Homo sapiens: one gene and its partners. The protein of the gene in region 3 purifies or fractionates together with the protein of the main gene of each other region. This does not show direct contact. Each region holds a gene or a part of one and is shown on either strand. Other genes may lie near its edges. The genes, in order: BLK, H1-4, GLYR1 and SERPINA12.

Region 1 (7,042 bases), on a different chromosome or scaffold from region 3:
CTTTTCTTTTCTTTTCTTTCTTCCTTCCTTCCTTCCTTCCTTCCTCCCTTCCTTTCTTTATTTTGAGATGGAATCTCGCTCTGTTGCTCAAGCTGGAGTGCAATGGTGCGATCTCAGCTCACTGCAACCTTTGCCTCCTTGGGTTCAAGCAATTCTCCTACCTCAGCCTCCTGAGTAGCTGGGATTACAGTCGCACACCACCACACCCAGCTAATTTTTGCATTTTGAGTAGAGACAGTTTCGCCATGTTGGCCAGACCAGTCTCAAACTCCTGACCTCAAGTGATCCGCCTGCCTCGGCCTCCCAAAGTACTGAGATTACAGGTGTGTGCCACTGTGCCTGGATGTGAATGGGATCTTTCTAAAGCCAGGACCTAAGCTCCAAGAAAGGCTGGGGAGACTTTAGCCCCAGGGTAGATCCCTTCATCTCCCGGCCAGGAGCCTCTCTGGGGGTAGTTTTGATTCCCACTTGCTAGTTCCCACAGGACACTTGTCTGGGTGGCAACGTGGAGTGCCGGAACCTGGAAAGATGCACTTGACCAGCAGGGGAGGGTGGAAGATGGCCCCTTTCACTGCGAGCCCAGGGCAGCCAGCAGCCTCAGCAGAGGTGAGGCCCAGGCAAGAAAGAGGACAGAGTGACCTCTTCCATCCTCCACACCTGCACATAGGAACCTCCAGTCTGGTGACCAAGAGAGCAGGTGTCTCCTTGCAAGTCTCAGCCCTCAGACCTTGCCAAGAAAGAGCACCCTTGCTTACTTCAGACAGCACACAGATCCCTGGTCCACGGCAGGAAATCACCCAGCCACATGCTCACACTGACCTGGTGGCAAAGGCCTCTCTGAAAAGGGTCACCCTGTATAAGGCTTGGGCACAGGATGGAGCAGAAAAAAATAGAGCATCTCACGTCCCACCTGACACAGGGGCAGGTGACAAAGCTGCACCTCTCCCTTTGGGAGTTACTAGTCGTCTGGGTGTGCCAGCACCCCCAGATCTTTCTGATCAGAGGAAACCAGATAAAAGCCATAAACGCACTTTGCAGAAGAGTGCCCACCTACACACAAGCTCCCATCCAAGATCAGGAGCTGACAGGCTACCAGGAGACTCATCAGAAGCCCAGGGGCTAGAAGGTCAGAACCAGCTTAATCTATTAAGTGCAGAACATCAAATGTCCTTTTAGATGCTACGTGTGGTTGTGTGCTTCACACATACACAAACATTCTCTGCACTTGAACAACCTCAAGCATCAGGGCCTCCTTCAGTTTTGCACCCCAGGTGTGTCTTTACCTCCCTCTGGTCCTGGCTCAGCATCCCAGGTATCAATCTGTGCAAAGAGGCCAGCAGAGAGTAGAGATGAGAAGGAGCCCAAGGGGACATCCTTGTATCCCATGGTTGTGGAAAACAGTAGCCGTTTTGCGAGTGGGGACTTGCGAACCCCACAGTGGCTGGCAGCAGCTGGTGTAGGGACATGACAGCCATGGGGACAGGTTCTCCATCCAGGCCCACAGGCCCACCCCCCTTCCCCTGCCACCGAGCACAAAGCAGGGTCACCCACCTGGGCCTCCGCTGTCAGGCTCGGGACTCAGGAGAGCCCAGGAGGCAAGTTATTCTCCACTTGTCCCCACTTGGCTGCAGGCAGGACCCTGATCTGCAGTGTGGCCTCAAGACACTCGGCCTCCCCGTCAGTGATGCACTGGGGGCCAGCTTGTGCCGGTATGCTAGAGCCGGTTGTTAAATTCTCAGGAATTTTGTGAGCTGAATTATTCAAATCATTATGCAAGATTAAGGTATAAAAACTATACGGGCCGGGCGTGGTGGCTCATGTCTGTAATCCCAGCAGTTTGGGAGGCCGAACTGGGCAGATCACTTGAGGTCAGGAGTTCAAGACCAGCCTGGCTAACTCTACTTAAAATACAAAAATTAGCCAGGCATGGTGGCGGGTGCCTGTAATCCCAGCTAATTGGGAGGATGAGGCAGGAGAATCCCTTAAACCCAGGAGGTGGAAGTTGCAGTGACCAGAGATCGTGCCACTGCACTGCAGCCTGGGCAACAGAGTAAGACTCCTTCTCAAAGAAAAATAAAAAAGAAAGAAAAAGAAAAAAAAACTATATAAAATTAAAATGATAAAAAATTAAAGTTGAATTATACAAGATACAACTAAATGGATTCTATTAAAACAAAGGTTATAAATACTTAAACCTCATCACTTCCTGATTATTTTTACTGCATCTTAATAATAGCTATGCTTTGAGGTTCTTTAACTGACTGTGTCTATAAGGCGGAAGTACTCTATCGTGCTGTGCTGCTGCGCATCTCGAACCCATGTTCACGCAAGTCATGTTAGCAACTTGAAATTGGCCCTGGTGGGAGTATTTATACAACAGGAACAGGCAAATGCTACAGGTCGGCAGTGATTTGTTTCATGGATTTTCTATGCTTAAAAGAGCATCTTGTCTGTAGCTAGAACACTGTGAGTAGCACAAAACATTGAGGAAACTTTTCTGAATATTGAAAAACTACTACCCAGTTCAACAAAGAAGCCGCTCATGGCACTAAGGCTGCAGCCTGCCCCAACTCTTTGTTGTTTCACTTTGATCTGCTCCTTAACATGAATGAACATTTCAGTGTTTGTGCCAACACCACACTTGCTCATCTGCTGCAACCAATGCTTGGCTACGGATATGACAGTGCAAAGTCACGAGAGCTTTCTATGAGACTCAATCACCTCTGCGGTATTTAGGACAGAGACTATTGCATATTTTGTTATTATTTGTAAATTAAGTGCTACGCATCCTTTATATCAGTACATGTTACTATAAACTTATGTATGTATACAATACATTTGTTTCCTGGAAAGCTGGTTGTTAAACGTTTACCAGGACGCCATGCTCTTCATCTACAAGATGCCTATCTTGACCTCACACTTCCCCCAGTGTGCTGGCAGGTGCCAGAGAGCCCATCAGATAGACAGACAGACAGACACCACAAAGTAGAAATGATTCCTTTCCATGCTAATGTGTTAAAAAAAAAAAAAAGAGAGAGAGTTTAGCCTTTCCCATAAAGCACCAAATAAAATCAAGAAAATGGGCTATGACTTTTGACCCTATTTTCGTGTGTAATACTTTTTAAAGGATCCTTTTATTTATTCAAATAAAATAGTAAATAAAATTAAAAGTATCATTTAATTTTTAATTTTTTTCACTCTGTCGTCCAAGCTGGAGTGCAGCGGCAGTCTCAGCTCACTGCTGAGATCTCCTGGGTTCAAGCAATTCTCCTGCCTCAGCCTTCTGAGTAGCTGGGATTACAGGTGCCTGCCACCATGCCCAGCTAATTTTTGTATTTTTGGTAGAGATGGGGTTTCACCATGTTGGCCAGGCTGGTCTCGAACCCCTGACCTCAAGCAATCCTCCCACCTTGGCCTCCCAAAGTGCTGGGATTACAGGTGTGAGCCACCACGCCTGGCCAAAATAAAAAGTATTATTTAACTTTATGTAAAAATCCAATTGCACCACAGAAATGGCAGGAATAAAAGAATCTTAAAATGAAATAATTTATATAAACTTTAACATAAAAGGTAGAGCCAGGCATGGTCACTCATGCCTGTAATCCCAGCACTTTGGGAGGCTGAGGCAGGCAGATTGCTTGAGCTCAGGAGGTTGAGACCAGCCTAGACAACATGGTAAAAACCCATCTCTACAAAAACCAAAATTAGCCAGGCGTGGTGGTGCACACCTGTGGTCCCAACTACTTGGGAGGCTGAGGTGGGAGGATTGCCTGAGCTGGGGAAGTGGAGGCTGCAGTGAGCCATGATTACACCACTGCACTCCAGCCTGGGAGGCAGAGCGAGACCCTATCTCAAACAAACAAAAACAAAATAAAACAAAACAAAAAAACAGGCCAGGTGCAGTGGTTTATGCTTGTAATCCCAACACTTTGGGAGGCCAAGGCAGGCAGATCACTTGAGGTCCAGAGTTTGAGACCAGCCTGGCCAACATGATGAAACCCTGTCTCTATCAAAAAAATACAAAAATTAGCAGGGCGTGGTGGTGCACACCTGTAGTCCTAGCTACTCGGGAGGCTGAGGTGGGAGAGTTGCTTGAACCCGGGAGGCGGAGGATGTAGTGAGCTGAGATCAAACCATTGCACTCCAGCCTGGGCAACAGAGTGAGACCTTGTCTCAAACAACAACAACAAAAACAAACACCCCCCAAATCAATCTAAGGTGGAATATGTGTAAAAATAAGCTATTTCTATAACTGTAATAGACTCACAGCTGGACATTTGACTGCAGGTTGGCTCCCTCAGTGAATTTTTCTGTTTTGTACACAGATAGGGAACTAATCCTTAGTGAGCACCCTCACTGTATATCAGGCTCTTTCAGAAATGCTGTCCTGCTTGTATTTGTTTATATATTCATTTCCTAGTGTTTCCAGAAAAGATTTGAGACCGCTTATAAAAATACATACAATACAACAGGATAGAAAAACAGATAAAGAAATTAGACCAAAGGGTAAGTTAGGGCAGAAAAAAAAATGTGTATAAAGCTGGTGCACAGAAATACAAACTGTGACATGCTGTCACCAAACTGCTAGTGGTTAGATGCAAATTGGGTTCTAAGTGTCCTGGAGTCCAAGCACAAAGAAGAAAATAATCAGTTTGAAGAGTCACAGTGTCTGTAAGACATCCATTGCTCCAGAGAGGCATGGATTTCCTGGATCTGGAGTCTGAGAGTCATCCTCTCTGGGCTTCTCCTGTGGAGGTCCTGGGTGGAATGCGAACAGCTTAACGTCATCTCAGCAATAAATTCCACTGTGAGTTTCCAACCTCTGTTTCTTATGCAGCCTTCAGCACAAGCCACGGCAGTGTACCCATGCCAAGAAAGAATGCCCACATCTGACTCAGGAAATGAGATTCTCTCAGGATCTCAAGCACTGTGAGATCCAAACACACAGCTCTTGGACTGACTATCTGGATACAGGGGAAGTTCCCAAAATATAGTTACGTATTGCTTCACTACAGGGATCTGTTCTGAAAAATGTGTCATTAGGTGATTTTGTTGTTCTGCGAACATCGTATACAAAACTTAGATGGTAGAGCCTACTCCACCCCTAGGCTCTGTGGCATAGCCGGTTGCTTCTAGGCTACACACCTACACAGCCTGCGACTGTACTAAATACTGCAGGCAGTAGTAACACAGTGGTGAATATTTGTGTCTCTAAACATAGAACAGGTACAGGCAAAATACAGTGTCTTCATCTTATGAGACCACCATCATATATGTAGTCTGTGATTGACCGAAATCTTATGTGCCCTGTGACTGTGTCTAGGTTCATGGCTCTCAATCTTACTAAATTTACTTTCTCTTTTGAGAAACAACAACACCATGCTCTCCTTTGTGAGGTTTCAAAATGAATATTGGGCATAAAAGTAAATCAAAGAAGTTGTCATGTAAGATGTGTCTTTTTGAAGTACAAGGACCCCCTGGTGGTTCTGACATTGAGAATTGAGTGCACCCTGTAAGAAAAGTTGTGTGCTCCTCAGCTTCAACTCACCTAAAAATTAGGGCTTTGTAATTTAATTCTGTTAATCCTGTGATGTGCTATTATCAATGAATGAAGAAATAAGACTGAGAGGATATAATTAACCTACCCGAGACAGGTAAGGCTGCTCGTATACAGTGGGGTCAAACTATTATCATCTCAGGAAGGCACACAGTGACTTGCTCACATTGCCAGGGCTGAACCTTGCACTGGAGCCCTCTGGTTGACAAGGCCAGCCGTCTAACCACTACACTGCAGGACGAGACCACTCAGATGTGGCTGCTTTGTCTGACTTCTATGTCCAAGTCCTTTCCACTTCCTCATATCCACAACACGCTGAGAGAGAAAATTAAAGTAGTCTTCCTAGATATTTGACTGTGTGATTCCAAATATTTTGGGGTTCACAGACCCCTTTGGGAATCTGACAAAAACTGTAAGTACCCACCTACACAAAAGCTTGTTTACAAGTTCACGGAGCTCAGAGCACCAGGAAACTCATCAGGAATCCACAGACTCAATGCTCAGAACCCACTTCATCTATTAAGCACAGAACCTCAAATGCCCTTATAGACACCACATGGCATTGTGCGTTTCACACATACACAAACTTTTCCTGCACTTGAACGACCTGAGCATGGGAGCCTCCTTACATTTTGCATCCCAGGTGTGTCTTGTTTGCCTCCCACTGGTCCAGGTTCAGCATCCTAGGTGCCAAAGTGTGCAAAAAGGCCAGCAGCTAGTTGTGATGAGAAGGAACGTGAGAAAACTTCCTTGATTACAATGTGGAAAGCACCAGCGCTTTGATGAAGGGGTTGCACAAGCCCCACAGTGGACAAGGAGGAGCCTCGTCTATGTCTTGGGCTCTGGACCCCCATTCCGTGGTTCTGTTCAGTTCTCATGTCTGTGCTTGAGAGTGGGTGCAACTGCTCCCACTTCACACTCCCAGCTGGCAGGTGCAGAGCCAGACTGACCTGGCTGGCAGGAAGCCCCAATGCTTTCATCTATACCACACTGTCTTACAGGAAGTGGAATGTGCCAGAGGCCTCAGATGCCTCTTCTCTTTCTTCCAAGGGTCCTGTCAAAACCCCAGCATGCTGATGGCACTGGGGTGCACCACGATTAGGGATGATCATTCAATTATCTTTGCTTTTCCTCTTTCAAGCTTTCATCCTCATGTCTTAACCTTGATTTTCATTTAAGGTTTTGCCCTTGTGTCTTTAACTCAAGAACCACTTTACCAGATACCCCTGGTGGGCCAGGCACTGCGCTGGGTGCTGGGACCTGGAGGCACATGTAGGGCATGTCCTTGTCCTCAGGAGCTTTGGTCCAGAGAACCTGGCAGGCCTGCAAACCAGAGCCCTGGGTGTGTGCTGGTGGTTGCTGGGGACACACAAATGGGCTTGGGCACTGTGACTGGGAGGAGACATTCGCACCTGCCCTGGACGTCAGAGCAAATGCAAGTTGCCTAGGTGGGAAGGTGGGGAAGGGATTCAGGCAAGCAGGAGC
Region 2 (6,186 bases), on a different chromosome or scaffold from region 3:
TTTCTTTTGCACAAATGAATAGAAAATTGTCTGTTTTCTTATACTCCCTTCTTTCTCAGCAAAGGTCATTATATTAAGTATATTCTTTTGGACTTTGCCTTATCACTTAAATGTATATCCTGGAATTGATACTAGTTCATAGAGATCTTAGTCATTTTTGTAGCTGCATATTACTGCACTGTGTAAATGCATCCTACTTTATCCAACCACTCTCTTATGTGGGGCATTAAAGTTTTTTGAAATATTTTATAATTCCAAACATTGCTGTGATGAATAACCATGGGTGTGCAAACCACAGTGTTAATTATTGACTTAAGTAAAAAGGAAACAATGTTGAAGATACTATATAGTCCATCTGTCTAGCATAAAGCACCTCTTTTCCAAACTCTATCTTTAATGAAACAATCATGGTAACATCATATTAAAATACAGAAATTCAGAATTAAGCTCTTTGACTGCAGAACTGTGAGGTAAAAGCAACCAAGCACAATCTTCTCTTTTATTTCAACTTTTCTGCAAATCACATTGTTCCCCTTAGTTCATAGTCATATTTGTAGCTGCATATTACTGCTATCATGTCCAAAATAAAAACAATTAGAGTGTCCCCCATTTTCCACCACTCAGGGTACCTTAGAGACTTTAAAAATGTCAATGATATCAAATTACTTTCTTAGCTCATTAAAGAATAACATACTTGATAATATTTTATGACTATAAAAGCTCAAGAAATTGCACAAGGAAGACATACTGTGGACATGTGAACAGGCACAGTAGAAATGTCTTTTACTAAGGGGCCTAACACACCAAGATTTGTGTATATAACTAAAACTACATGCAACGAAAACTGGTATTTTATATTCTATTCTATTTCACTAAAAAGAGAAATATTTTGTCCTTGACAACTAAACTGATTTCACAACTTTTCATGCTTGTTCAGACCTGTAGTTTGAGAAAACACTGTTTAATAAGCATACATGCTTTGAAGTAAAACCAACGTGTGCTGGAATCTGCAATGTACCTCTTACCAACAGTTTTCTCAAGAGAACTTGTTAACCTCTGCATGTCCATTTCCTACTTTGTAAAGTAGAAATACTATCCATAACAGAGGATTGTTACACTGACTAAGTAAGAATGCAGGTAACTCAGGCTGCAGCCCAGTTGTGGGGGAAAAAAAATTTCAGATAGCATGTAGTACAGTAGCCAACAAATGGGAAGGATGACTATCATTAAAAATGATAAAATGGATAAGGAATGTAGATGCTGTACTAGAGGATTCAAGTAGTCCATAAGCAGCCAAGGTTCAGTCTACCTTCTGTGGTTGGAAAATAATGACTCATTGGATGCTTAACTTTAGTTACTCTCCTTTCTCCTTCTTCAGCCCACTATAGTGGCCAGCCAGGTGTGAATCAAAGGAAGTCAAGATTGGACTAATGCTGTCCCCGTCTTTCCAATATATGGTCATATTCAGCATGGATATCTTTTCTAAGATCTCACAGACACGCCCAGAAATCCCTGGGAGAACTCACGTGACAGGAAGCACATTTGCCCTATTGGTCATCTCTAGTGAGTTCAGCAGAGTTGCCAAACTTGGCTCGGCATAAGAGTGGCATGAGAAAACTGATAAATATTCAGATTCTGAGGACCTACTGAAGAGTTATTATGTCAGAATAATCTTGAGCAAGGCCTCAGAATCTATGTTTAAAACACATGCATGACTGGGTGGTTCATACCTGTAATCCCAGCAGTTTGGGAGGCCGAGGCGGGTGGATCACCTGATATCAGGAGTTGGAGACCAGCCTGACCAACATGGTGAAACCCTGTCTCTACTAAAAATACAAAAATTAGCTGGGTGTGGTGGCGGGCACCTGTAATCCCAGCTACTTGGGCGGCTGAGACAGGAGAATCGCTTGAACCCGGGAAGTGGACTTTGCAGTGAGCAGAAATCGCTCCATTGATTGCACTCTAGCCTCGGTGACAAGAGCGAAACTCCATCTCAAAAAAATAATAACAAAATAAAAAATAGAACACATGCATGAACATGTGTGTGTGCACACACGCCTAGTTCTGAGATAGCCAGCCCGCTGACCAATAAGAAAGTAAGGCCTTTTGTTATTGTTCCTATTTCATCACCGACAAGTGTCAAATAGATGCTTGATTTCATAGTGGTCAATCCTCAATCTCTGTCACCAAGGCTCGAGAGCACGTTCACTGCAACCTCCGCCTTCCTGGTTCAAGGGCTTTTCCTGCCTCAGCCTCCCGAGTAGCTGGGATTACACCACCACACCTAACTATTATTATTATTATTATTATTATTATTATTATTATTTTATTTTAGCAGAGATGGGGTTTCACCTTGTTGGTCAGGCTGGCCTCGGACTCCTGATCTCAAGTCATCCATTCGCCTCAGCATCTCAAAGTGCTAGGATTACCGGCGTGAGCCACCTCTCCCAGCCCATGCATTTGGAGGCAGAGGCAGTGGTTGCAGTGAACCAAGATCGCGCCATTGCACTCCAGCCTGGGTGACACAGTGAGACTCTGTCTCAAAAAAAGAAAAGAAAAGTAAAGTAAAGAAAACACACCACACCTTAAGGAGGCAAGCAGTGGAAGTTGAAAGACCACAGAATTTGGAGAGTTTAACTCCTTCCTAGCCATGAGGAATACACTGGATAAAGTGAGGCATGTGAAAGCAAACTTCCATGTGTTGTGTAAGTTTCAGTCATTTACAGGAGTGGTTTTTGTTGTCATTAAATAGGTATAATATTACCATTCTGGAATCAAATGCCCATATAATCAGTTTCCCTAGTCTGTTTTGGAGATTTATCCATCTCCCTTTTTATTTCAATAAATACCAAAGGGCATATTTATTTTTGCACTGATGTGCAATAATTAGATTGAAAATACACATCAAGATATTAAAAACATTGATAATTTACATCACTTTTATAACAAATTCAACATTAAACAGTACTGTTTTGATACATTTCACTCGTGTTATATCAAAATTCTATATTCTCCTTATTTCAGTAGCAGAATTTGTGTCTGGAGATTTTGGGCAATGAAATTAAAATTTAAAATGATATCCAACGCCATATTACAATCAACCACGTCCACAGAACAGTATCATATCACCTTATAGCACTGGGCAAAATTTTATTTTGTTTCCATGATAAGTGGCTTGTAGTTCCACCCATACTGTTCCAGCCATATCGTTTTTCAGAAAAAATTCTTTTTTTTTTTTTTTTTGAGACGGAGTCTTGCTCTTTCGCCTAGGCCTGACTGCAGTGGCACTATCTAGGCTCACTGCAAGCTCCGCCTCCCGGGTTCACGCCATTCTCCTGCCTCAGTCTCCCGAGTAGCTGGGACTGCAGGCGCCCGCCACCGCACCCGGCTAATTTTTTGTACTTTTAGTAGATACAGGGTTTCACCGTGTTAGCCAGGATGGTCTTGATCTCCTGACCTCGTGATCCGCCCGTCTCGGCCTCCCAAAGTGCTGGGATTACAGGCGTGAGCCACCGCGCCCGGACCAGAAATAATTCTTTTGGTTGGGCTTTCATTGCCAGCTTACATACACTCTTCTTGATTGGGCAACTACCTAAAGAAATTCACTCAGACATTGTTCAAAGGATGTTTTCAGAGGGCAATGATTTATAATAGCTTAGATAGACTCTCAAAGCTCTACTTCTGAGATCGAAATTTGAACTTGTCGTTTAATCACTACATGTCACTTATTTTTCTTTCTATTGAGCTCTGGGAAGCATTGGAATACAATCTTCAGGGGGATTGAAACCATACGTGGTGAGTGGACTAGTCATTCCTCAACTATTCAGTAATAATAGGGGCTGGGTTTCACTAATAATGGGAGTAGATGTTTCAATCTACGTTTCTTATTTATTTTGCCTTATCATCAATGCTTGAATTTCAGCTCTAAGCTACTTTATTGCAATTTGGTTCTGAAGCATATGCCAAAAGCACTCAGCAAGGCTGCAGACAAATGCTTTAAAGTAAAGTGCACCTCCACTTCCAGTGACTTTATGAACATCACATTTGAAAATTAATCCTTTTTCATCTCTGTACCCTGAGTACATTTTGGACTTCCCTTCGTTCCCAAATACCCTGAATTCAAGGTATCTCAATCCATGGAGCAATTGTCCAGAGGAAGAGAGAAGCAACAGCCCCGCCCCCAACCCTTGGGAGCAGAAAGGGAAAGAATTATCCAAAGAATTGTTTAAAAACTCAGATGTAGCGGACAGATGTAAAACCATGGCTGTATAGATTGATGTCCCAGGGGTCCAAAACTTAATCTCAAATGGGCAATAATTTGTTTGGCATTAAACTAAACCAGTTTGATGAACTCAAATGCCCTCGGCTCAATAGGCAGGACTCTCCGAGGAGCCTGTGTTACTTCCCTCACTTAAGTGCAGATTTGTAATAAAAATCTTAATGCCAGTGGCATGCTTTTTGGATATATAAGAAGCTAACCACTTGGAGTATCATATTTGAGAGGTCAGAAAAGTCCACAGTTAAAGATCGGTTTATAATTTACGAAGAAAATAGAAAGTTTTGTTTCTCTGAGTTGAAATTTGCCAAGCACGGCGGGAAATATTGCAAGTTTTTGGCACAAGGCTTTGTGCTTCCCTTATAATTTGAGATCTGCGTGAAGCCTGAGGGTTCGGGGATCATTATCTGAGAAAAACCGGGCAGTTCGGTGTAGACAATTTTTATATTTTTGGCTTTTTTTGAGGTGTAACAAACACAACTCGGGATCCGAGAGGACACTCTGCGGCTGCCAGCGAGGCGGGCTGGACAGCGCACCAATCACGGCGCAGCTCCGCCCTATATAAACGGGCGGGCGCAGCGCCGCGGCTCGAGTCCCGGCCAGTGCCTCTGCTTCCGGCTCGAATTGCTCTCGCTCACGCTTGCCTTCAACATGTCCGAGACTGCGCCTGCCGCGCCCGCTGCTCCGGCCCCTGCCGAGAAGACTCCCGTGAAGAAGAAGGCCCGCAAGTCTGCAGGTGCGGCCAAGCGCAAAGCGTCTGGGCCCCCGGTGTCCGAGCTCATTACTAAAGCTGTTGCCGCCTCCAAGGAGCGCAGCGGCGTATCTTTGGCCGCTCTCAAGAAAGCGCTGGCAGCCGCTGGCTATGACGTGGAGAAGAACAACAGCCGCATCAAGCTGGGTCTCAAGAGCCTGGTGAGCAAGGGCACCCTGGTGCAGACCAAGGGCACCGGCGCGTCGGGTTCCTTCAAACTCAACAAGAAGGCGGCCTCTGGGGAAGCCAAGCCTAAGGCTAAAAAGGCAGGCGCGGCCAAGGCCAAGAAGCCAGCAGGAGCGGCGAAGAAGCCCAAGAAGGCGACGGGGGCGGCCACCCCCAAGAAGAGCGCCAAGAAGACCCCAAAGAAGGCGAAGAAGCCGGCTGCAGCTGCTGGAGCCAAAAAAGCGAAAAGCCCGAAAAAGGCGAAAGCAGCCAAGCCAAAAAAGGCGCCCAAGAGCCCAGCGAAGGCCAAAGCAGTTAAACCCAAGGCGGCTAAACCAAAGACCGCCAAGCCCAAGGCAGCCAAGCCAAAGAAGGCGGCAGCCAAGAAAAAGTAGAAAGTTCCTTTGGCCAACTGCTTAGAAGCCCAACACAACCCAAAGGCTCTTTTCAGAGCCACCCACCGCTCTCAGTAAAAGAGCTGTTGCACTATTAGGGGGCGTGGCTCGGGAAAACGCTGCTAAGCAGGGGCGGGTCTCCCGGGAACAAAGTCGGGGAGAGGAGTGGGATTTTGTGTGTCTCCGGAGCTATTTTTGACTAAGGCGTCGCGTCGCCCAAGCCGGAGTGCAGTGGCGTCATCTCGATTTTGCGTTCTCGAGTGTCGGAGTTGAACCCATTTGGGCCTCCCTTGTGCTTTGCACTTTTAGCAGGCCCTGGCCTCCAGATAGCATGGGAAAAAAAATGTTGGGATTTTCCCGGGTTTCTAAGCTGGGTTTTTCCGAGTTCCAAACACGGCACAGTGTATCAGTTTCTGTGCTGGTTACAAGCCTACTGGTTATCCCTATCGAGTATGGCAGGCAGTGAGGGACTTCAGAGGAGTACGTCTTAGGACAAGTGGCATAGTACTGACATTATTTCCGAAGGGCTACATTTCAAGTGCTTGGGGAGACTACTGCCACATAACTGAAAATTAGAAACCGACACTGCAGAAAAATAC
Region 3 (7,133 bases):
ATATGGTCAGAGTCTCAGATTAATGGTCCTGGTTTCCCCAACTTAGGACAGATCTGGTAAAAAGACTTACTATAACAATGTCAAAGCAAATCACTTAGTTTTACACATGAGAACATGATTGAACAATTACTTTTATTAACATAAATAAAAGTTTCCACTGTATACCCCAAGCATGAACCATAATGATATATGGCATTAAAAGAGAACTGAACATGGCTTTTATAAAAATAATTGCCAGCTGGGCGCAGTGGCTCACGCCTATAATCCAGCACTTTGGGAGGCCAAGGCAGGTGGATTGCTTGAGTCCAGGAGTTCAAGAACATCCTGGGCAACATGGTAAAACCCCCTCTACAAAAAATTAGCTGGGCATGGTGGTGCACACCTGTGGTCCCAGCTACTCGGGAGGCTGAGGTGAGAGAACCGCTTGAGTCAGTGAGGCAGAGGTTGCGGTGAACTGAGACTGCCTCTGCACTCCAGGCTGGGTGACAGACTAAGTCTCTGTCTCAAAAACAAACAAAAAGGAACTGCCTTTGGAGTTGGGTAAAGAAACATGTGAGAAACTGTTTCAATGTGATTGTTATAGTTAGAAGGTAAATGAACCTAGTTCTTGCCTGACTTAGTTATAGACCTAGGACAGTTGTCTAGGGCAATTTCTGCAAGAAATTGCACCTTTATTTAGGTATGAAGGCAGAATGAGATGCCAGTATTACACATTATAAGAAGACTGAACTAAGGATCCTTAGAATATTTTCAAAGCAGCTCAGACTCCAGGTAACACAGAAAGAAAGGCGAAGGGAGACTCCTGGTGAGTACTACTCACTGATCTTCTGTTCCAAAAAATTTCACAAAGAAGCATTTCTTTCCGCGAGGTTTCTTCAAGTCCTTTGGTGGATTAACAATCTGGAGGATAAAAGGGGGGAAAAAGGTTGGCTGGCAACACAGCAGCCCACTTTCTAGTGGCTCCACATTGCTCTACAGTTCTACGTTGCTAAGAAAAAAGTAAATTAAAAGGACTTACTTACAAATAAATTTATTTATATACAAAACAGAACCCAAGGCCTAGTACTTGTCTAAATCTCCCATTTTTCTATTGAGGTGTATGGAAATGTGTAGATATTCTAGAAGTTCCCAATATTTAACATGTAGCACAGTGCTCAGTAGACACAATATCCCTTTTACTGCAGTGGCCCTGTTTTACAAGCAGTTAAAACTAAGATCAACAGCATCCCCTGCCCCCCACCACCCCACCCCTGCTCCAATGTGACCCCATTATTACTGAAAAAATGCAGACGACACTCTTTGAAATACTTCCTGTGCAGGAAGGGTTGACACAGGACATAGTGAAAACAAAGGACAACCGAGGCACAGAAAACACCATATTGCAAAGAGACCATCTAAAGACACCTCCCGGGCTCCAAGCAAGAATATAAAAACACAACATTTGGAAAGCAATGATGGATCACCTCATGCAAAATCTGGAATGCCAACTTCTGCAAAGAGGCACTGGAGTAGCACATATGGTAACATGGAAAGAAGATTTAAACTTAGTTGGGACAAAAATACTTTGGCTTTTCACTAACCTACATTTAGACTTTCTTCCTGGATAATTTATATTTTCTTCTCCTTTTGTTACATTTAAGCATAAAGCTAAATTCAGACTAGAATTATTTCCGGGGTTAAAAAAGAAACTTCATAAACCTCCTCTAAATCCAGAAATAAGGGTTTAGAGAAGATTTAATGATCTGGTGTATACTGCATTGCCTTTTAAAAAATAACCGATACTAGGGGAAAAAAAATTCTAAGTGCCATCTGAATGAGCCCAATTTAACTCAATACTAGAAACTGAGAGGAATGCATCTTACATTCTCCACCTCTTCAAACCCAACTTCAGATCTCTTCCTTTAGTAGCAAGACACTCACCTTTCCTGGCCAAGGAGGATATCGGCCGAGTTTCCCCCTAGAGAAAACACAAAGAGTCAACACTTGCCCTGCAAAAGCCAGTCCATCTCCTTCAACCCACTCAATACGCAATTTATTTTCCTAAATCTCTGCTGGCATCCTCAAATGCCGAAACAAAAGCTTTCATAGCTGGGCCCAACACCCTCAGAAGTAAAATGCAAAATTGTATACTTATGTGCACAACGCATATCCATTCTTCTGTTGACAAGGAATACAGAACAACACAACTGTCAAAAGTCACTTGTCTAGAGCTTCTTAATGACGGGGGTGGGAGGACAGCTTCCTCTGTAAACACAGACTTTCCCTCCCTAAGTCTGGTTTAATTCAACAGGAGACCTGCCTGGCTTTGACAAATGCTAATGGAAGCCTTCCTCTGGGTGGAGAAACAAGCTACGCAGCTCGAGGGAGGCGGCGACAAAGTCTTGGTTCGGGCGGTTGTCTGGGACACAGAAGCAGACCGCGGGAGGCACCCAAGCGTGCACTGGTCACTGCCAAGCCATCGGTTGTAAAGGAGAAGTCCCCCCGCCGTTTCTTCGCGGGGCAACGCCAGCAGTCCGGTTTAGACAACCCCGGCTGAGCCGGCCGCACAGGTCGGCTGCATCGCAACCTGGGCTTTGACCGAATGGCACCGGCCAGATCTCGCAGGTCCGGTCCCCGGCGCTTCTGCTTTCTGGGAAGCCCCAACAAGACCCCGGGGACCGGTCGTCCGGGGAAGCCTCGCGGCACCGGCGGCTCCCTTCACGGGGGCCGCCAGTATCTGGGCCCCGAGTGCAGACCCCACCCGGCCGGCCTCGGGGATCAAAGCCGGTGCCCGACGTGGCCACCCTCGGCCTCGGTCCCCCGGGACTGGACTGCCCCTTCCGCCTGGCGCCGCTCGCAAGCGCCGGCACCTTCTCTTCCCCTCTCTCCGCGACCTGGAGCGCATAAAAAGGCAGCTCCAGGGCCGGCAGCGAACCCCGCGCCCAGGCGGGTAGCTCCCCGGCGCGTCTCGGTTGGCCCGGCCGCTCGGACTCACCACACCAAGTCGCCGAGCCGCAGACTCACAGCCGCCATCTTACCACCCAACCACCGCCGACGCACGGGCCGCCGGGAACAGCAAGTCGCCCCGGCGCCGCCCATTGGAGTGGGCCCGACCACGTGACGGGGGCCGGCTGTCACTGGCCACGCCGCTACTCTGACGTCACCGCGCCCGCCGGGGATCATTGGTCGACCGAGGGGCACGTGACGCGAGCGCCGCGGTCTCCGCGCGCCGGAGCGCAGAGACTCCCGGCTCCTTCCCCCTCCCTTCGGCTCGTGACAACGAAGCGCCCGCGGTCTGAGGCGGCGGCGGCGGCGACGGTGCGACCGGCTGAGCGCGAGAGGGAGCCGGCCTCGCGGCTCGCCCCGCCCCCGGGTCTTGGACTCCGCGCCCCTCCCCTCTCGGCGCTTCCGTTACGCCCGTTGGTCCGGCGCGGGCCCCGGGGCCATTCCCGAGCCCGAGGCGCTGGTCGGCCCCGTCGCAGCGCCAGTGAGCTACCCTGACGGAGCTCGGCGCGGCCTGGAACTCAGCCTCCGCCGGGTCTGGGCTCCCGCGCCCGGCAACTCTGCTTGGCCGCAGGCCGGGAGGCCCCGGTGTCCGCGCCCGTCCGCTCCCGCCGCCCGTGTTCTTTGGAGCGCTCCTCCCGACGGCCGCTTTCGGAGGCGCCGTCTGAGCGCGGGGTCCCGCGCCGCAAGTTCTCCTGGGGCGACCGGAGGCTGCTCCCCCGACCCCCTGGTGTCCCCGGAGTGGCTGCGCGGACGTCGAGTTGGCATTTCTTCGCTTCCTCCTGGGCCGGCGCGCGGCGCGGCACACCAGGCTCCCCTGGGCTCGGGGACCCGGCCATGGGCCGAGGCGCGGGCCGCCCGCCCGCTGGGAGCCACGGCTTAGCAGCCGACCGCTAGCTGCGCCGCCGCCCGGGGACCGGCATGAGGACCGCCGCGGGGGGACGTCTGCGGCCCGCGTCGGCGCTGGGGACAAAGGTGCGTGTCGTTGTCGGGTCCGGGCTCTCTCGTTAGCCTTGCCCTAGTTTTGCACTTTTGAAAAAGTTGTGACAACAGGAAGACAGATGCCGGGCGTAGTTTGGACACTTTAAAACTGAACCATGAACTGGGAAGTGTTAACTGCAGTTGAGCGCAGCGTCGGCCCAAACTTCAGCAGACCAGGTAGAATCACAATTTTGCAAAAGATCCCAGTCCCGATCACAGACTCCACAGTGTTAAGGATTGACTTAGACTTGGTGTCGGGCTCTTGTTGAGTCACTGCCAGCTGGCAAAGGTGGCGAGTCGACACGCATTTCCCCAAGGCATTGTGGTGGTTAGAGATTTCGGTTGCAAGTCGGTGTTTAGCGTACTGGGTCGTCCCGCAGCCTGATTTTTCTTGGGAGATCAGTTTCCCTGAAGTACCAAGAATTAGCTGCACGGACTGTCATTTACTGCGTGTGTATTTTTAAGACAAAGTGATCTTTAAAGCGTATTTAAGATTCCAGGGAATAATTTGATAAAAATTTAACATAAGTTCCTGTTTAAAAATTCTGAATTTGTGAGGAATTGAATGAGATTTTAATAACTTAAATAAAAACATGAATCTTGGCCGGGCAGGGTGGTATAAGCCTGTAATCCCAGCATTTTGGGATGCCGAGGCGGGTGGACCACCTGAGATCAGGAGTTCGAGACCAGCCTGGCCAACACGGTCAAACCCAGTACTCTACTAAAAATACAAAATTAGCCGGGCGTGGTGGCGCATGCCTGTAGTCCCAGCTACTTGGGAGGCTGAGGCAGGAGAATCGCTTAACCCGGGAAGCGGAGGTTGCCGTGAGCCGAGATTATGTCACTGCACTCCAGCTAGGCGACAGAGCGAGCGAGACTCGTCCCCCCGCCAAAAAGAAAAAAGAAAAAAAAATCTCAAATGAACATTGCACCAAAACCTAGAGGCATTCCCCTTAACATCAGAAACATGGTACATTTCTACCACTATTAGATAATAAGAATATATTGCCTAAAACCTGAAAGTTCTAGCCAGTGCAGTAAGACAGGAAACAAAAATAAGAAATGCAATTTTTGGAAAAGGGAAGACAGAATTCTCATTTCCGTGGATGATAGGTCTGCCTATTTTGAAAACAAAAACAAAAACCAAAAAACCCATTAAAATAAGAATTCAGGAAGGGTACTCATTATAAGTTGGAATGCACAATTTAGTTTTTCTGTTTCATCAATAACCAGTTTGAAAATACAATGTTTAGAAGGAGATATATATATATATAGTAAGAAAAAATTAAAAATTGCTGAGGATAACCAAGGGACAAGGAAGGCTAGTATTTTCTCAGTAACACCAACTGAGGTTTTTAAAGGGGGATCTTTGTTTTTTTCTTTTTTTTGTTTGAGACGGAGTTTCACTCTTGTCGCCCAGGCTGGAGTGCAGTGGCAGGATCACGGCTCACTGCAGCCTGGACCTTCCCAGTCTAAAGCCATCCTCCCACCTCAGCCTCCTTAGTAGCCAAGACTACAGGGGTGTGCCACCATACCTGGCTAATTTAAAAAAAATTTTTTTGTGCAGATGAAGTCTCATCATGTTGTCCAGGCTGGTCTTAAACTCCTAGGCTCCAGCGATCATCCTGCCTTAGCCTCCCAAAGTGCTGGGTCCGGGAAGTTGAGGCTGCAGTGAGCTCTCATGGTGCCACTGCACTCCAGCCTGGGCAACAGGAGTGAGGCAACTGTCTCACAAAAAAAAAAAAAAAAACCACAAAAAAAGCTAAAATCTTTCCAAGGACTTAGGCAACTCTCGTAAGTCTAATAGATAAATGTAAGTTTTTTTTAAGCATTCAAACATGTTTGAACTTAATTATATTTTCTTAAGCATTTTGAATTATGATTGTAAGTCTAACGTACCATTGTTAAATATATTGGATTCTCTTAAATGTTTCAAATGGCTTAGTAACAGCAGAACATTATAATGATTATAAAACAACCCCAAATCTAAGTGGTAATAGAGTACAGATTTGACTCACTTTATCCTGTAGTCCTATTTTTTACCTTCTTGGGCCTGGAGAGTCACTTAAGCAACTGAAAGGAGCAGTTTTGCCATCTAGGATTGAAGCTGCAGTCTCTCAGACTTGGACTGAGATAAGGTTATGTGTTTACTGCCTGGACAGGGGGAGTAGGACCTGGTTGCCAATTCAAGGATGACCTTCCTGCATCCCATTGGTTAACTTGCTGATTCCCTTCTTATAGTGAGACTGTTCCGGTTCTATCAGTGGGGGAATCTGTAAGCCTTCAGCTGGGATTTATTTCCACAACCCAGCGCATCACAAATATCCTGAGGGCCTTGGAGATTTCTTTTAGGGAAATCTCCTTTAACATCTTAGTACGTGTTGGGAGATGGTCTTTTGCAGCGCCAGCCTGTTACACTGCTAATCGTTTTGCCGCCTGATTAGAATTATTTTAACTCTTCATTTGTAGATATTTTGTTCCCTTATGTGATGTTATAAGTTGATTTTGTGATCATAATTCGACAAATGAATATTGGATATATACAAATACGTCTACATGTATGTGGATATATACGATATATGCTAATTTTCCTGAATTAACTCACATTTGTGATTGATTTACAACCAAAATACAGTGAGTTTTTTTGAAACCTGCCAAAATAATACATAGGCTGGAATGGCAAAGTATTATTTATAAAGAAGGATAATAAACATGAGCTTTAACTTTGCAACATTAAAGTATGAAACTTTACAAAACAGTGCAATACTGATTAAAGAATCTCTAAATACCGTATTAATATGACACATGGACTTCAGAAACAGGCCTTAGATATCTGTGATGTTGCTTTGCAATATATGCCAAATCAGCAGAGGAAGGAAGGATTGTTTAGTGATTGATGCTGGAAGAAACCAAGTTACAGCCTCTCCTCATACTTTATAGCATAGCAAATTCATCTGGGGTTAATGAAGTAAATGTGAAAAAATATCTATAAATGACCATATAGGCTGGGCTCAGTGGCTCACACCTGTAATCCCAGCAGGAGTTCAAAACCAGTCTGGGCAACATGGCAAAACAACGTCCCTACAAAAAATACAAAAATTAGCACGCCTGTAGTTCCAACTACTAGGGAGGCTGAGGTAGGAGGATCGCTTTAGCTTGGGAGGTTGAGG
Region 4 (5,691 bases), on a different chromosome or scaffold from region 3:
GGACCGACTTTGTTAAAGCACTGAACTAGCTTCCTTGGAGCCCCAAAGGGAGGGGCGGGACCTTCACTTCAGAAATAAGAAGACAGACTCAGAGAGGGTTTGTGGCTTTCCCAAAGATACCTCATTCCAGGATTTGAACCCCAGTCTCTCACTCGAGACCCCAGGTACTTGCTGTGGCCCATACCTTCCCCAAATTATCCACCAACAGCCAGTCAACCTGGGGCAGGGCTGTGGGGGAGAAACATTTGTTTACTAAATCACAGAGTCCCTCTGCCCGCTGGAGGGGAGAGGAGAATGCCACCAAGTGGGCGGGGGTGGGGCATTGCATCCCAGCATTTGAATGGGCAGGGAGGAAATGGGGCACAGGACTTCTAGAACTTGCAGTTTTGCTCATTCGGGCTGTCTAGGGAGGTGGTGACAGGGAGAGACTAAACTGAAATGTGCCTGTGACTTCCATCTCAGGAAGATGGAACATGTTCAACCCCAAGCCATGTTCGGGGTCTGTGGCAAGCAGGAATTCTCCTTTATTTTCCAATAGGGTTAACAATCTTTCCCAGGAAGAGCACGGAAGGTATTTTCTCGCTGTAAATCAGCAGCAGATAGGGTTTGTCTATCTTGACGACGAGTGGTGTCTCCATGGGCAGAGTCTGTGCTCCGGTGCCAGCGGCCCCTTCCGTACCCCTCTCATCCATCTTCAGCTCAGCCTTGTGCACAGCCTACGGAAGCCAAGGGCAAAGTCAAGGTCTGCCAAGCTCCTTGGCGACCACAGTGGGCCGGAGGCCCAGAGAGGATCAGAGAGGAAGACCACTTGGCCCAAGCCATCCAGCACAGCAGTAACTTGGTTTACTCCAGGGTTCCTGGCTCTTTCGCCATTAATGCTGGAGAATATTCGACAAGCAGATGCCGTGTGAAGGAAAAGATGGTGCAGGGGGAGCATCAGTTACGGGAGTCGGTGGGGGGAGAGATGGAGTGGGGTTTGCTTCTCTTTCTCATGGGTTACAGGGAAGCATCAACCATAGCCGTGGCAGAAAGGTCTACTGGGCTGTAGCTGGGTGAAAGTGAGGTGGTGGTACCCCCACCCTGAAGCCTCCAGCACCTCCTTTCATCCACCTGGTGGATGGTTAAGAGGGAGAAGGATTCTGGATTAGCTCTTTGAGATGACTTGCATCCCAAATCCACTCCAAAGGCATCAACGTCTGTAAACAGGTGATCAGTACTGGGAAACTAACGGGCATGTGTGAAATCCTGGCACATTTCTTGCTAGCCTACAAAATTCTCACAATTTTACTTGCAGAAAACAGGACAGTATCCTGTGTTACAATCACAGCTATCAGCAAACGTAACTACAGAAAGAAATGAGCCATTAAACTCAACAAGACCTTCAGAGCTGGTGTTAAATGTTTGTGGGAAGTCTGTGGCAGGAAAGCTCAAAAGTGAGAAAATTCTAGTAACTATGTTTCTTATGTCAACGTGAAAAATACAGTGGAATCTGTGCCATCTGATTCAGAGCAGCGGGCTCAGCTTGGCAAGCTGGATCCTTCCCAGACTGGCTTGAACCTCCCACTTTATCTCCACTAAGCACCCAATCCCCACCACCCACTACTCCATGATATCCAAAAACCCCCAGCCTTGGCCACACTGCTGCACCCATCCCCGCACCCATCTCTGCTTGTTGAAATCTTTCCCCTCCTTCAATGCCTTTTTAACCCCAAAGTAGGGTTGCCAGGTGAAATACAGGACATCCACTGAAATTTGAATTCAAGATAAACAATGAATATGTTTTAGTGTAAGTGTGTCCCGTGAAATATTCTGAACATACTGGCACTAAAAATATTATTCATCATTTATCTAAAATTCAAATTTAATTGGGTATCCTGTATGAAATCTGCTAAATCCGGTGACTCTACCTATATGGTGCTCTCTTCTTGCCCCAGACAGTCAGGTGCTCACCTTTGCCAGGGGCCACAGGCCCCTTTGCTTGGTCATCTCTTCCTATGCAGCATATGCTTATGCCAACTCATATGAAACATGTGGCCTTGGGCGCGGTGGCTCACGCCTGTAATCCCAGCACTTTGGGAGGCCAAGGTGGGTGGATGACCTGAGGTCAGGAGTTTGAGACCAGCCTGGCCAACATGGTGAAACCCTGTCTCTACTAAAAATACAAAAAAATTAGCCGGGCATGGTGGCGGGCGCCTGTAATCCCAGCTACTCGGGAGGCTGAGGCAGGAGAATTGCTTGAACCTGGGAGGTGGAGGTTGCAGTGAGCTGAGATCGCACCACTGTACTCCAGCCTGGGTGACAGTGCAAGACTCCTTCAAAAAACAAAATAAAAGAAAGAAAGGAAGGAAGGAAGGAAGAGAGAGAGAGAGAGAGAAAGAAAGAAAGAAAGAAAAAAAGAGAGAGAGAGACAGAGAAAGAAAAAGAAAGAAAGAGAGAAAGAGAGAGAGAAAGAGGAAAGAAAGAGAGAGAGAAAGAGAGAAAGAAAGAGAAAGAAAGAAAGAAAAGAAAGAAAGAAAGACGGATGTGGCCTTTGAGAGAGGGTCTGGGTTAGACCTAGACCAGTTCTAGGCCTGATAACTGTTCCAGGCCTTGATCAACGTTTGCTACATTGAATTGATTTCCAAAATAGCAGCAGTTTTAAAGACTGGAAGCATGAGGCTGGGGGAGGTTATGTGGTTTGCCCAGGATCACGGGGTTGGTAAGGGGCACAGCTGCATTCATGCCCGCCCCGACTGGTGGGTGGAGTCTCGGCTCTGACAGCCACTGTGACCCTGGCTCTGGCCCCGGCTGGGGGAAGGCCCCTGTGCTGCAGGGAGTGGAGTCCAGGCTAGGCAGGCTTACCTCGCCCACTTTCAGGCTGCGATGAGGGGCGATCTTGGTGAGATCACCATGTTCCTCAAAGATTTTGGAGACACCTATGTAGGAGAGAGTCTTCTTCAGGTCGAAGGTGCCCGTCATGTGGAGTCTGGGTACAGACACGTCTACGACCCTGGGGAATTGACACGACAAGGGTGAGTGGTCAAGTCCTGTTGTGTTGCAGGGCAAGCCTCAGGATACATGACCAATGAAACATGTGTCCTCCCAGCCCCAAAGGTCTCCAATCTCTCTCCATCCACAGAATGAGGAGGGGCTCCTTAACCCTGGGACCCTGGTTTCAAAACACCATAAGCTCTCTGAACCGTGTCCCTGCCTCCCAGCACACCTGCCCCAGAGCCCTCTACAGGGAGTGTTCTCAAGTCTCAAGTTCCCCCGTCTCAGAGCCCCTTCAGCCACAGTCACTGATGATGTCCACACTGTAGTCGCTGCCATGCCTGAGCCCTGAGCCCATCCTGACCCCAGAAGACCTGACACTGGAGGGAACAAGGCACCCAGAATCTGGAGGTAGACAGAACTGAGTTCAAATCCACTCTGCCTCTCATGAGCTCTGTGACCTTCCCTCTCTAAGTCACTTGTGTGAGAAGGAAAATGATCACCGTCGCTCCTGCGGGACACTAGGGGTGCTAAGGCAAATGCAGACAAGGCACTCAGCAGACAGTTGGTGCGTAGCAGGTGCCCATCCTCCTGCCCTCCAACTAGCAGCTTCACATCCTCTGTGGCTGAACCGCGATCAGCCTCCTGCCCGGAGCCTGGGGCCCAGGCTCTCCTGAGGTACCTGCAGACCCTGGATTCCCGTTCACCTGGCCTTGCACCCTATTTTCCCACCTACCCAAGGATCTCATTCCTGCCTATGTGTCCTCTCTCTCCTGCATCATCCTTAAACAGTGCCCCTTTGATCCTCCTCTGGAGGAGGCCTCATGCTAGAGTGACCCTATCCTCAAAAACTAACACCAAGAGATCTCTCTTGGCCCTGAATAGCCTCTCCAGCTTCCAGCTCATTTCTTTTCTTCCTTTTATAGCAGCTATCTCCACTCCCTCCCACAATTGCCTCAGTCCACTCCAGTCGGCTCTTTGACCTCAACTTTTTATGGAAGCAACTCTTTCCAGAGTCACCGTTGACAACCAGCCCCACGTCCCAGAGCCAGCTCTCAGTGAGCCGCACGTGATGGTAATCCCTTTCTCCAAGGTGAAGCATTCCAGGTCCACCCCTTGAGGCTTCTCCTCCTTCCCCACCACTCCTGCCCCTGTCGGGCTCCACCCCTCCCATCTCTACCGGTGACACTGCTGCTTCCAGGCTCAGACCTTGGTCCCCTTCTCTTTTCCACCTTCACTCCATCCCCATACATGTCATTCAGTCTCACAGCTTTGAATATCATCAACAGGCCCAACGACTCCCAAATTTACCTTTCCACTCATTCATTCACTCAACAAACATTTATTAAATCTCTACTGTATACCAGGTGCTGTTCTAGGTGCTGGAGATGCATCTATGAACAGAGCAGGCAAAGATCCCTGCCCCTGACTGTGTGTTCTAGCAGGGAAGACAGGTGATAGAATCAACACAACAAAAAGTACCACTTAAGCCTACATACATGTACTAGCGGTATGCAGAAGGCAGTAAGTGCTATGGAAAAAAATAAATAGATTGACTTGCAGGAATCGAGGATTGGTCCAAAGTTTGAGCAAACCTTGAGGCAGGCAAGAGAGTTAGACAAATTGGGGTTTTTTTTCCTGAATAAAATGGGGAGTCACTGTCGGGTTTTGAACAGAGGAGTGACATAGTCTTGCTTAGGATTTAAAAGGATCATTCTGTTGCCTCTGTTAAGAATATACTCTTGGTGGTGGTGGTGTGTGTAGTGGGGATGGGCAAAAATTGATGCTGGGAGACCATTTGGAAGCTAGTGTGGTAGTCACATGTTGGGAGCCACAGAGACGGCGGAAAGATACCAAATTCCAGATGTGGTTTGCTGTAGGCTAAAGGAGTTTCCTGACAGACTGAATGAGGCATTTGAGGGTGGTCAGGGTGACTCCAAGGTTTTTGGCTTGAGCAACTAAAAAGATGGAGTCACCACTGATTGAGATGGGCAGGCTTGGGGAGGTTCTCTGGGGACAGATCAGGAAGTCATTCTGGATGTGTTGACACTAAGCTCCAATTACACATCCTGGGGACATTCTGGGTAAACAGAAAGATCCACGACTCTGGAATTTGGGGGAGAACAGGGGCTGGGGATGGAAGCATGGCAGTCGTGGTAATAGAGATGGTGTTTAAAGCTCTTAGCCTGTGAGCTCACTCAGGGGTAAGTATAGACAGAAAAGAAGGCTGGGAACTGAGCCCTGAGACACTCACCTCTGAGACCTGGAGGAGGAGAGGGGTCTCCAGCAAAGGAGATTGAGGAGGGGAGAGGTGGGAGGTGATGTGAGAGTGGAGAGCTGGAAGCCAAATGAAGAGTGCCTTAAGGAGGTGGGGACAGAAACCAGCCGAAGAGCGAGGCCTGAGACTGACTGCACTCTGCAACACAGACACCCTTGGGACCCTGGGAAGGGAGCTTTCTGTGAGAAGTGGGTGCAGAAGCTGGACTGGAGTGGATTTAGGAGAGGATGAGAGGAACTAGGGGCTGTGAACAGAGGCAACTGCTTCATGGTATTCACCTGCAAAGGGGGAGTGACGAAATGGAGGAATAACTGGGGGAAAGCAGAGGTCAAGAGAAGCTTTTATGTTGGGAAAAATAATAGCATTGAGATTTCCTGCAGGCCAGCACAAGCCATACAGGCCTGCCTGCACAGAAGGCAGACACCTGCTTTGTCTTCTTGCAT

Evidence for each region.
Region 1: the proteins of GLYR1 (region 3) and BLK purify together in Homo sapiens (affinity purification with mass spectrometry; 2 studies listed by BioGRID and IntAct, with this or other methods). This does not show direct contact.
Region 2: the proteins of GLYR1 (region 3) and H1-4 purify together in Homo sapiens (affinity purification with mass spectrometry; 2 studies listed by BioGRID and IntAct, with this or other methods). This does not show direct contact.
Region 4: the proteins of GLYR1 (region 3) and SERPINA12 purify together in Homo sapiens (affinity purification with mass spectrometry; 3 studies listed by BioGRID and IntAct, with this or other methods). This does not show direct contact.

Annotation. Positions count from the first base shown.
Region 1 is NC_000008.11:11,497,345-11,504,386, reverse strand, and holds part of BLK (tyrosine-protein kinase Blk), read right to left. Parts: intron 1-7,042. UniProt on the Homo sapiens protein: Non-receptor tyrosine kinase involved in B-lymphocyte development, differentiation and signaling. B-cell receptor (BCR) signaling requires a tight regulation of several protein tyrosine kinases and phosphatases, and associated coreceptors.
Region 2 is NC_000006.12:26,151,464-26,157,649, forward strand, and holds H1-4 (histone H1.4), read left to right. Parts: upstream 1-4,865; 5' UTR 4,866-4,927; coding exon 4,928-5,587; 3' UTR 5,588-5,652; downstream 5,653-6,186. UniProt on the Homo sapiens protein: Histone H1 protein binds to linker DNA between nucleosomes forming the macromolecular structure known as the chromatin fiber. Histones H1 are necessary for the condensation of nucleosome chains into higher-order structured fibers.
Region 3 is NC_000016.10:4,844,254-4,851,386, forward strand, and holds the start of GLYR1 (cytokine-like nuclear factor N-PAC), read right to left. Parts: upstream 3,036-7,133; 5' UTR 3,013-3,035; coding exon 2,975-3,012; intron 1,958-2,974; coding exon 1,921-1,957; intron 901-1,920; coding exon 821-900; intron 1-820. UniProt on the Homo sapiens protein: Cytokine-like nuclear factor with chromatin gene reader activity involved in chromatin modification and regulation of gene expression. Acts as a nucleosome-destabilizing factor that is recruited to genes during transcriptional activation.
Region 4 is NC_000014.9:94,486,779-94,492,469, forward strand, and holds the end of SERPINA12 (serpin A12 precursor), read right to left. Parts: intron 2,990-5,691; coding exon 2,842-2,989; intron 717-2,841; coding exon 525-716; 3' UTR 501-524; downstream 1-500. UniProt on the Homo sapiens protein: Adipokine that modulates insulin action by specifically inhibiting its target protease KLK7 in white adipose tissues.